Linked DNA regions of Homo sapiens: region 1 is linked to region 2. A link means that fine-mapping ties the variant in region 2 to the expression of a gene that starts in the linked region. Tissue or cell type: whole blood. Region 2 holds a variant in brackets; the other region holds the start of a gene. All regions are shown on one strand. Distances are between the middles of the regions.

The links. PIP is the estimated chance that this variant, and not a neighbour inherited with it, causes the effect.
Region 1: NEK9 starts here. The variant in region 2 is fine-mapped to the expression of NEK9 in whole blood (TOPMed, PIP 0.97).

Annotation. Positions count from the first base shown.
Region 1 is chr14:75,124,993-75,130,114 of GRCh38, reverse strand. It overlaps NEK9 (NIMA related kinase 9), which reads left to right and starts at 3,067. Exons shown (of 22, transcript NM_033116.6): 1 at 3,067-3,412. The coding sequence starts at 3,194. RefSeq lists enhancers at 3,014-3,143, 3,154-3,203.
Region 2 is chr14:75,229,019-75,234,214 of GRCh38, reverse strand. No RefSeq gene overlaps it. Among named protein-coding and RNA genes, the nearest start is that of FOS, 47 kb to the left of the region's middle. RefSeq lists a cis regulatory region at 3,917-4,472. The variant A/G (reference allele first, on the strand shown) is at 2,037.

The sequences.
Region 1 (5,122 bases), 100 kb after region 2:
CCAAAATATTATTTCAACATATAGTTAATATAAAAATGGTTAATGAGATGTTTTGCATTCCATTTTTCATATAAAATCTTGAAAATCCAGTGTGCATTTCAAGCTATACCGCATCTATAGCTTAAAATTAGACTAGCCACAATTCAAGTGTTGAGTAGCTATATGTAGCTAATGGCTACCGTGGCAGACAGTGAAGGGTATAAACTTGGGTTGGTCTTTGGTAGATTCTTTCATCTTGACAGTAACTCTATGGCCCCTGGGAATTTGCCATTCACAAATTGGAAACTAATGCAAAATAGCATTCTAACCATTCACTTGTTAAAGTACAATGTGGAAATAGTTTGGTTTCAACCAAAGGCGCTTTAAAATTTTACACCTTGGCCAGGTGCAGTGGCTCACACCTGTAATCCCAACACTTTAGCAGGCCAATCACTTGAGGTCAGGAGTTCGAGAACCAGCCTGGCCAACATGGCAGAATGCCCTCTCTACTAAAAATACAAAAATTAGCTGGGCATGGTGGCGGACGCTTGTAATCCCAGCTACTCAGGAGACTGAGGCATGAGAATCACTTGAACTTGGGAGGTGGAGGCTGCAGTGTGCTGAGATCATGCCACTGCACTCCATCCTGAGTGACAGAGTGAGACTGTCTCCAAAAAAAAAAAAAAAGTTATACCATTAGAATAAATGTTGACTATTTTTGAACTTATAAATATTCAAAGGTAAGACAATTAGTTTCAGTTATATCCAATATAATGAAGAATTCAGCAGGAATGTCTCTGCTCTATAATAGGACATGTTTCTTCTAGGCTTGTAGTATCTATGCATTATCATTAGAACAATTCAGTTTCAGGCCAACCACGTTATAGAAAACTAGTTCCTCGTTGCAAAGGTGCCAGAAAAAAATGAATTTTTAAGCTTAGGCTGAAATCTATTCAGCCTCTTTGAAAGTCAGCATTCCCAATTTTAAGTAATTGGTTTTTTCCCATTCAACTGAGAAACAATTTATTGAGCATCTTTTCTGTTTAACAGAGTTAATCGAGAATAACAGAATTAAGTTAATAGAATTAACAGATTTAAGCCAAACTAAACTCTGGAGTTTATCTAGATAAACAAGAGGCAATACCTATCCTCAAAGTGCCTTCTAATTAATAGGAGGATGTAGATGGAATGGCCTCTACCTGAAATGATCTCTCTACTTTGTTTAGACTTAACATTTTGTATATTCCTGCACTCACACAGCAAGTTTGGCTTGGACAGATGCCACTCCTAAATGCCTCTCTAGAATCTTGCACTTTAATAGCCCTTATAGAAACTGTTTTAATTGCCTGGTGGTTTTCTGTTACATGTAAGCTCTCTTAAAGTAGGAACTTTTCACAAATCGATATGACACAATGTATTTTTATGTATTTGAGACAGGTTCTCACTCTGTTGCCCAGGCTCGAGTGCAGTGGCATGATCTTGGCTCACCGCAACCTCCGCCTCCCCAGTTCAAGCAATTCTTGTGCCTCAGCGTCCCAAGTAGCTGGGATTACAGGTGTGTGCACGCCTGGCTAATTTTTGTATTTTTAGTGGACACGGGGTTTCACCATGTTGGCCAGGCTGAACTCGAACTCCAGGCTTCAAGTGATCGGCCCTCCCAAAGTGCTGGGATTACAAGTGTGAGCCACCACGCCCGGCTAGGCACATGGCTTTCTCTTAGCCCCATCACATCCTGCTTTTTCAGATTGCTGGGTTCAACTTCCCAGCTCCCTCTTACTAGGTCTGTCACATTAAGCAGGTTACTTAGGTACCTCTGTTTCTGTAAAATGGGAATGTTAGGATAATACATAATACATAATACATAGGATAATACATAATAATGTGAGATAATACGTAAAAAACCTTTAGCATAGTACCCAGAACATAACACTCAATAAATGTTAGCTGTTATGTCTGTGATGTAGACCACATTCTCACAACAAAACAAGCTTGGAGATGAGAAGTTGCCCAAGGTCACATAATTGCCCAAGGTCACATAACTGATGGAACACCTATTGTTCACCGTATTGCTGTTTTCCTACTTGACGGTAGGGAGAACATTATTGCAGATTTCCTGTTCCCAAACAGTGTGTGGCACCAAGTGCTCAAAGAATGTTTCATGATATCATATGGTCAAATATCTGGAAAAACACATAGAATAAATTGAATCTGGAAAAAGAGACGGGGGAGAAGGAAAGTGTCAGGAGAGTTGACTTAAAATATTTTTGGAGTTGTGTAGAAGAGGGAGGGACTTAGGATGGCCCTGGGAGAAAGAACTCGGCCCAGGGACCGAGATGACCGGAGGCAGACATTTAGGCTGTCTATATTATTATTATTTTTTTTTTTTTTGAGACAAAGTCTCGCTCTGTTATCCAGGCTGGAGTGTAGTGCGCGATCTCGGCTCGCTGCAACCTCCTCCTTCCGGGTTCAAGTGATTCACCTGCCTCAGCCTCTGGAGTAGCTGGGATTACAGGTGCCTGCCACCACGCCTGGCTAATTTTTGTATTTTATAGAGACGGGGTTTCACCAGTTGGTCAGGCTGGTCTCAAACGCCTGACCTCAGGTGATCCGCCCGCCTCGGCTTCCTAACATGCTGAGATTACAGGCGTGAGCCACCTTGCCCGGCCATATTATCTTTACTATACTATCTCTCTAAAAAAGAATGCTGTCCAACGTTGGAATGGGGAAGAAGGTGTACACTGGGAATGCTTCCCCAATCACCCTCTTGTCACAGACCTGACGTCAAGATGAGACTGGACGACCTCTGGGCCTCCAAGTTGTATGAGTCCGGACCGGGGAGGCAGAGAAGGGTCAATAGACCCGAGAGGCCGTACCGTCAGTGATGCCCTTGTTCCCGTGGGAGCCCTTCGGTTCCACGCGGTTCCCACCACGCGCCCGCCAACCCTAGCCCGAGGCCTCACTTTGCAGGCCTTCCCCGAAAGCGGGAAGCCTTGGCCGCTAGACTAGCCAAGAGGGTAAGCAAAGGCGGAGGAAACTCAGCCAGGCCGGAAACACAGAGAACTGTTTCCGGGTCGGGGGGCAGGAGCCACCATCGAGCTTCGCGGGGTTGCTGGGCTGACGGATCCGCGGGCCGGCATCTGAAGCGAGCGGGACGCAGCGCGGCCAGGGCCTCCGGGCATACGCAGGCTGGTCCCCAAGGCCCGCGGCCGCCGCCATGTCGGTGCTGGGCGAGTACGAGCGACACTGCGATTCCATCAACTCGGACTTTGGGAGCGAGTCCGGGGGTTGCGGGGACTCGAGTCCGGGGCCTAGCGCCAGTCAGGGGCCGCGAGCCGGCGGCGGCGCGGCGGAGCAGGAGGAACTGCACTACATCCCCATCCGCGTCCTGGGCCGCGGCGCCTTCGGGGAAGCCACGCTGTACCGCCGCACCGAGGTAGCGGCCCTCGGCGCCGGCCGCCCTGTCTGGCGCTGTCGGGTCGCCCCGAGTCCCTCCTTCTCGGCCCCGCTTTCCCAGCGTCGTGAGCTTAGTGCTTTAGGCGCCCACGGGGTATATGTCTTAGGGTCTTCACCACTCTTCCCACTCACCGGCACTAGAAATTGGCTAGATCATTGGTTTGACTAGTCATTTTTGATTGTCCTAAGTCACCTAACCGTCTCTTGAGCTTTAGTTTCCCCATCTGTAAAATGGGCTTACTGATAATACCTTGAAATCATCTTTTTCTTTTTTTTTTAAGATTATCTTGAGAATCAAACGAAGGCTCTGTTCTGTAAATTAAAGTGGTATACGAATGTGAGGTATTGCCAAAACTTCCTTCCTCTCATGCTGTATATATAGTTCTCCAAGGTCGGGGTGAGGAGGAGGGGCATAGCTTCAAAATCCCCACACCCGTGGCAACTCCGTTATTTTTGTCATTATCTTTAAGTTCAGCAGTGATCACTCAGTTGGAAGCTTTTCTTGAAGCTCATTGGGAAGATCTTTGTGTGTTGGTTCTTTATCAGTGTTTATCTTGCAGGGTTTATGCATGGGAAATACTTTGTTGGTATATTCTAAGCCATTAGTTCTTAATTTGGGGGGCACAAGGACCCCTTTGATAACCTAAGCAAAGTAATCTTGCCCCCTCCATCAACACATTTGCACATATGCACATCCTTTGGAGAGATCCATGGATCACGGAATCCCAAGTTAATATATACTAGTGTAAAACCCTGCAGTGATTATTCTACTTCCAAAAACTAACGATACACTAGATTTGATCATAAAATCTTACTTTAGGGTAAACATTTAATGAGAACTTGCTGGGGTTGCTGAAGGTGATTCATCCGTCGGAAATCCATCTGCAGTTCTGGTGTGTGTTCCAAGCCAGCATACTTTTAAGGCTGAAAGATGGAGAAGGAGAGAAGTGGTTGCAAGAGAATATTTTTAAGTGTTCTTTTTTATCCTGATGCCACGTTAATGTATGATGTTAGAGTTAGTTATTCTTAGTAGTCTGTTTTCTTTTTTGCACTCAAAATGAGAAAGAGGAGATAAGGATTGTTATTTCTATATTTTAGTTAGAGAAACTAAAACAGTATACTTAAGTGACTTGCTCACTTAAGTTACAAGTAAATCTTGGACTAGAACTAAAGTCTCACATCTTGCCCATTGCCTTTTTATTATTATCCTGTTGAACTTGATTACTGGGTTGGTTTTGAGTTAAATTTGATTACACTTCCCAAAAATTGCATAGCGTTGTCCATATCACCAAATATTTATTAGATCTGTGAATTTACAAAAGTTCAGAAGCACTCTTTTTCTCTAGAAGCTTATATTTCAGTAGGAAAATAAGTTGACCATTGTTAGTAAACAAATAGCATTAAGTTGCATATGTAGAGATATGAAAAGAATGAACAAATATCATTTCAGTGTATGGGGTCTAAAAATTAAAGACATGGTTACAGTAAAAGCTTCATCAGAGTCTTTTCAAAAACACTGTAAAGGCTTGGCAGAGGCATTCAAAAGGATGGGGAGGGTTACATAGGTGGAGATGCTCCTGGGCTAGGAAGCAGGGTCAGCAAAGAATGAGGCGAGGCACAGTGGCTCATGCCTATAATCCCAACACCTGGGAGGCCAAGGTGGTCGGGTCGCTTGAGGCCAGGAGTTCTA
Region 2 (5,196 bases):
AAGTGCAGTGGCACAATCTCTGCTCACTGCAACCTCCGCTTCCCGGGTTCAAGCAGTTCTCCTGCCTCAGCCTCCCTAGTAGCTGGGATTACAGGTGCACACCACCATGCCCAGCTAATTTTTGTATTTTTAGTAGAGACAGGGTTTCACCATGTTGGCCATCAGGGTCTCAAACCCCTGACCTCAGATGATCCGCCCACCTCAGCCTCCCAAAAGTGCTGGGATTACAGGCATGAGCCACCGCACCCGGCCCCATCTCTCTTTCCATAATGTTCTTTCCTCTCTGCCCTTTCTCCTACCCACTTGTCTCCCTTCTTGGCAGCCTAGAGAACTTAAATTCATTCTTCAGTACTCAGCTCAAAGGTTACCCACCCTGGCACTTTCCCCTTCCCTTCCCTCTCCCCGTCTCGCACATGGTATGCAGAATTCTAAGATGGCCTCCAAGATTTCTGTCTCCTGGTATACACATCTTACATAATCCCCTCTCCTTGAGTGTTGGCAGCATTTGTGAATATGATGGGATGTCACTCTCTTGATTATGGTAAAAAGGATTTTGCAGATGTAATTAAGGTCCCTAATCAGCTGATTTTGGGTTAATCAAAAGGGAGTTTAGTCTGGCTAGGTCTGTCCTAATTAGGGGAGACCTTCAAAAAGGGACTAGGGGCCAGGCATGATGGCTTATGCCTATAACCCAGCACTTTGGGAGGCAAGAGGACCTCTTGAGCCCAGGGGTTGTAGAACAGCTGAGGCAGCATAGGAAGACCCCCATCTCTACAAAGAAAAAATTGTTTTAATTAGCCAGGCATGGTGGCATATGCCTGTAGTCCCAGCTACTTGGGAGGCTGAGCGGGAGGATGGCCTAAGCCCAGGAGTTCGAGGCTGCAGTGAGCTGTGATCGCATCACTGCACTCCAGTCTGGGTGACAGAGTGAAACCCTGTCTCAAAAATAAATAAATAGCCAGGCACGCTGGCTCATGCCTGTAATCCCAGCACTTTGGGAGGCCGAGGCAGGTGGATCACCTCAGGTCAGGAGTTTGAGACCAGCCTGGCCAACATGGTAAAACCCCATCTCTACTAAAAATACAAAATTAGCTGGGCATGGTGGTACATGCCTGTAATCTCAGCTACTCAGGAGACTGACATGGGAGAATCACTTGAACCCAGGAGGTAGAGATTGGAGCAAGCCAAGATCATACCATTGCACTCCAGCCTGGGCAACAAGAGCAAAACTCTATCTCAAAATAAATAAATAATAAAACCCTGAAAACAAAAAGGGACTAGGATCCTCCCTGAAGTCAAAGAGAATTTCCTGCTAGTCTTGAAGAAGAAAGCTGCCACCTTATGAGAGGATGTGTGAAGTGGGCCATGTGACAAAGACTTGAGGGAAGCCTCTAGTTGATAAGAGTGGCCCCTGGTGACAGCTGCCAAGACAACAAAGGCCTCAATCATACAGATGCAAGAAACTAAATTCTGCCAACAATCACGTGAGCCTGGAAGAGGACCTCAACCTCCAGAAAGAAATGCAACCCGGCAGACACCTTGATTGTCAGCTTGTGAGACCCTGAGCAGAGGACTTGGTTCAGCCATACCTGTACCCCTGACACATGGAAACTGTGAGATAATACATTGTTGTTGCTTTAAGCTGCTAAATTGTAGTAATTTATTACATAGTAGTAGGAAACTAATACCACCACCCCTCCCAAGAATTCTTCATCTTCTGGATTCTGTAGCACATTGCACTCATCAGTATTATAACCCTCCCTACACCATATCATACTTATCCCCCACACATCTGCCACCCTACTGTCACTGCAATCCCAGGCCCAGTCTTCTTTGGGCGTGGTACCAAGTATCTGGGAGCTAATAGGTAGGAAGTAATACATGCTTGTTGAATTAATGTCATGCAAACCCAAAATTGGCTGCTATCTCTACTGCCTGAGTATTTTTAACAGAGGTAATCTTTTCTTTTTCTTTTTCTTTCTTTTCTTTTCTTTTTTTTTAGACCAAGTCTCACTCTGTTGCCCAGGCTGGTGTGC[A/G]GTGGTGTGATCTCAGCTCACTGCAACCTCTGCCTCCTGGGTTCAAGCGATTCTAGTGCCTCAGCCTCCCGAGTAGCTGGGACTACAGGCGGGAGTCACCACGCCCAGCTAATTTTTGTATTTTTAGTAGAGACAGGGTTTTACCATGTTTACCAGGCTGGTCTCGAACTCCTGACCTCAGATGTTCCACCCAGCTTGGCCTCCCAAAGTGCTGGGATTACAGGTGTGAGCCACCGTGCCCGGCCAGAGGTAATCTTTCTGACATCTTGTGTGTGTGTAGGGCTGGCTCAGTTGTCCATAACATTTTGTATGTACATACATAGATTTAATTATTAATTTAATGAATTCTATAGTAGCCCCTAAAAGAAGATATGGTTTCAGATTTCCCCTCTGGTTTTAGGCTATAACATTTCTCTTGAATGTTCTGAGAATATCAGATCCTCCATGACAATGTCTTTAAAATTGTGTCGAGTAACACTAACCCTTAAATGGGCTGTGGGCAGCTGTCAAGTTTCAGGCCTCAACTCTTGGCAAGACATTGTCTCTCTCAGAGGCCTTTAGAATGTCTCCAAAGCACGCTACAGTGTATCTGCTGAACTGTTAGCCAACAGCCTCTGTATCTCATGGGCAGGTATCAGTTTCACTGTTGTAATATCCCCTCAACAACCATTGCAATGGCCAGGACATGTGGCCTGGCCTGTGGTTCAGAAACATAGTCACTGTAGCCATATATGACCCCAGAAACAGGGAACAGGTCTATGAGGTTGATTTGCCTGATTCCTACTCCACCCCCACATATGTGTATGCACACACACAGACACATACATGCATGTGTGCACACACACCCATATACATGCAGGTGTGCACACACACCCATATACACGCATGTGTGCACACACATGCACCCACCTTATTGGCGCCACTGATAATATAAAATACCTGTAACAAGGGACAGAACTTTTTATTTTTCTATGTGTAAGAAGATTTATGGGGTAAAAGCTCCTGAATAGGCCGGGCGCGGTGGCTCGTGTCTGTAATTCCAGCACTTTGGGAGTCTGAGGCAGGTGGATCACAAGCTCAAGAGATCAAGACCATACTAGCCAACATGGTGAAACCCCATGTCTACTAAAAATACAAAACTTCGCTGGGCGTGGTGGCGCACTCCTATAGTCTCAGCCACTAAGGAGGCTGAGGCAAGAGAATTGCTGGAACCCTGGAGGTGGAGGTTGCAGTGAGCCAAGATCACGCCTGGGAAACAGAGCGAGACTCCAGAAAAAAAAAGAAAGAAGAAGAGAGAGAGCGAGAGAAAGGAAGAAAAAAGAAAGGAAGGAAGGAAGGAAGGAAGGAAGGAAGGAAGGAAGGAAGAGAGAGGAGGGATTTCTCAAGGATCAGCGTATCTAAGCCAAAGGCCTTAGGGGAAGGGAGAGAAAGGAAGTGCGGGGCTTGGCAGGCACCTCTCCCTGCCTTTGATTCAGACATTCCTGGTGCTTACTGGGTGTAGACACTTTTCTCTCAGCCTGCTTCCTTGTAGGCAAAATGGGTGTAATAATCGCACTCACCTCATGGGGTTATTTTAAGAATTATATGAAACAATGCATGTTAGGCAGACAATTCAAGGCTCAGCACACAGAAAGCCACCCTTTAGCTATTACCAGTATTTGACCTGTAATCAGGCTCAAAGAGTGTCTTTTAGGGTCTCAAAAATTGGGTGCAAATTGGCTCTCCTCAGTAGTTGGTGGTTGCTCATCAGGTGTTTAGGACGTCTGCAAAGTAAGGAGGTCTGACAGACTCCTCATTGTAAGCTGTTCCCTAGTCACTCTGCCCCCATACTGGGAGTGGCAAGGGAGGCATTTGGCAAGAAACCCAGCAGTGAGACAATAGGTGTGAAAGATGAACAGGAAGTGTGGTTTGGAAGCAAGTGCTAGCACCAAACCACTCATGGAGAACACCTAATCTGGCTGCTGATTGGGCGCTGAGCCATCACTCATATCAAGCTTCAATGGGAAGGTTTGTATCCATGCCCAAACTTACAGCACACGGACCTTCACCAGGGAGATTGACTGAACTGGTGACCAAGGGCTCCCTTGAGACAGCATGGCCTTTGGCCTTCCAGGTTCAAATCCTAGGTCACTCAGTTACTACCTGAGGCACATTATTTAACCTCTTGGAGCCCCATCTGTCTTATCTTTGAAACAGGCATGGCTGTTGGGAGGGTTAGTGGAGATAACATGGAAAGAGCCTAGCACAGGGCCTGGCCCACTCCACAAATGCGAGCTCCCTCCCATTTCCCCTCCCAGGCATCTGAGACACCCCTCCACCCCTTCCTTGTCTCCTCACTGAAGACAGTTAAGCATGCTGTCTGGGGATGACGCCAGTTCTTGATTATTTGATATTGCCACACATCTGGCCTTATCACTGACTATTGACTATAAGACTGGCTGCCCTCTGCTCCACCTGGCTCCTTCCGGCCAGGTGGCTTCTCCTGACGCACTTGGACAACAGTGAAGGGTTGGGCCAGGTCGCCTGGTGGCACCAGGGTTGATGTGAAAGAGTTTTTCCTCAATATTCCAAACTTAAGAGAAGGAATGACTTTAAAAATGCATATGTATCTGCATGCCTGAAACACACACCTTTGAGAAGTTTCCTTCCTTTGAGTACCCAGACTGCAGTTGTTCTGACAAGTGCCCTGCCTGATCCTCCCTCTGAACACTTTCGTAGTTCCCAAGCTTCTCTTCCAGATAATCTAGGGTTCCTGTTTCTCAGCTCATCTCCTAAATGTTGGGGTTCTAGGAGATTCTGCCGTCAGTGCCCCCACCCACCATGCTCTCTGCATGACCTCAACCACAGCCATACCCTGCTGAGTTCCGAATCCATCTGCCTGGCTCTTCTGCCCACACATCTGCATACACAGCTGCCTCCATTTCCACCTGGTGGTTCTTAGACTTAACGTGTACAAAACAGAATGATGGATCTTCTTGACACACACCTAATTCTTCTATATTCTGTGCCCCAGTAAATGGCATGTCCTGCAAACCCAGAAGCATAAGCAAATCTCTTGATCTCCCTCTTCTGTTAATTCTATTTCCTTAGTATCTCTTGACTGTATCCCCTCCTTCCCATCTACCTTCCACCTCTGCATTCTGGCTGCCGCTGTATCTCC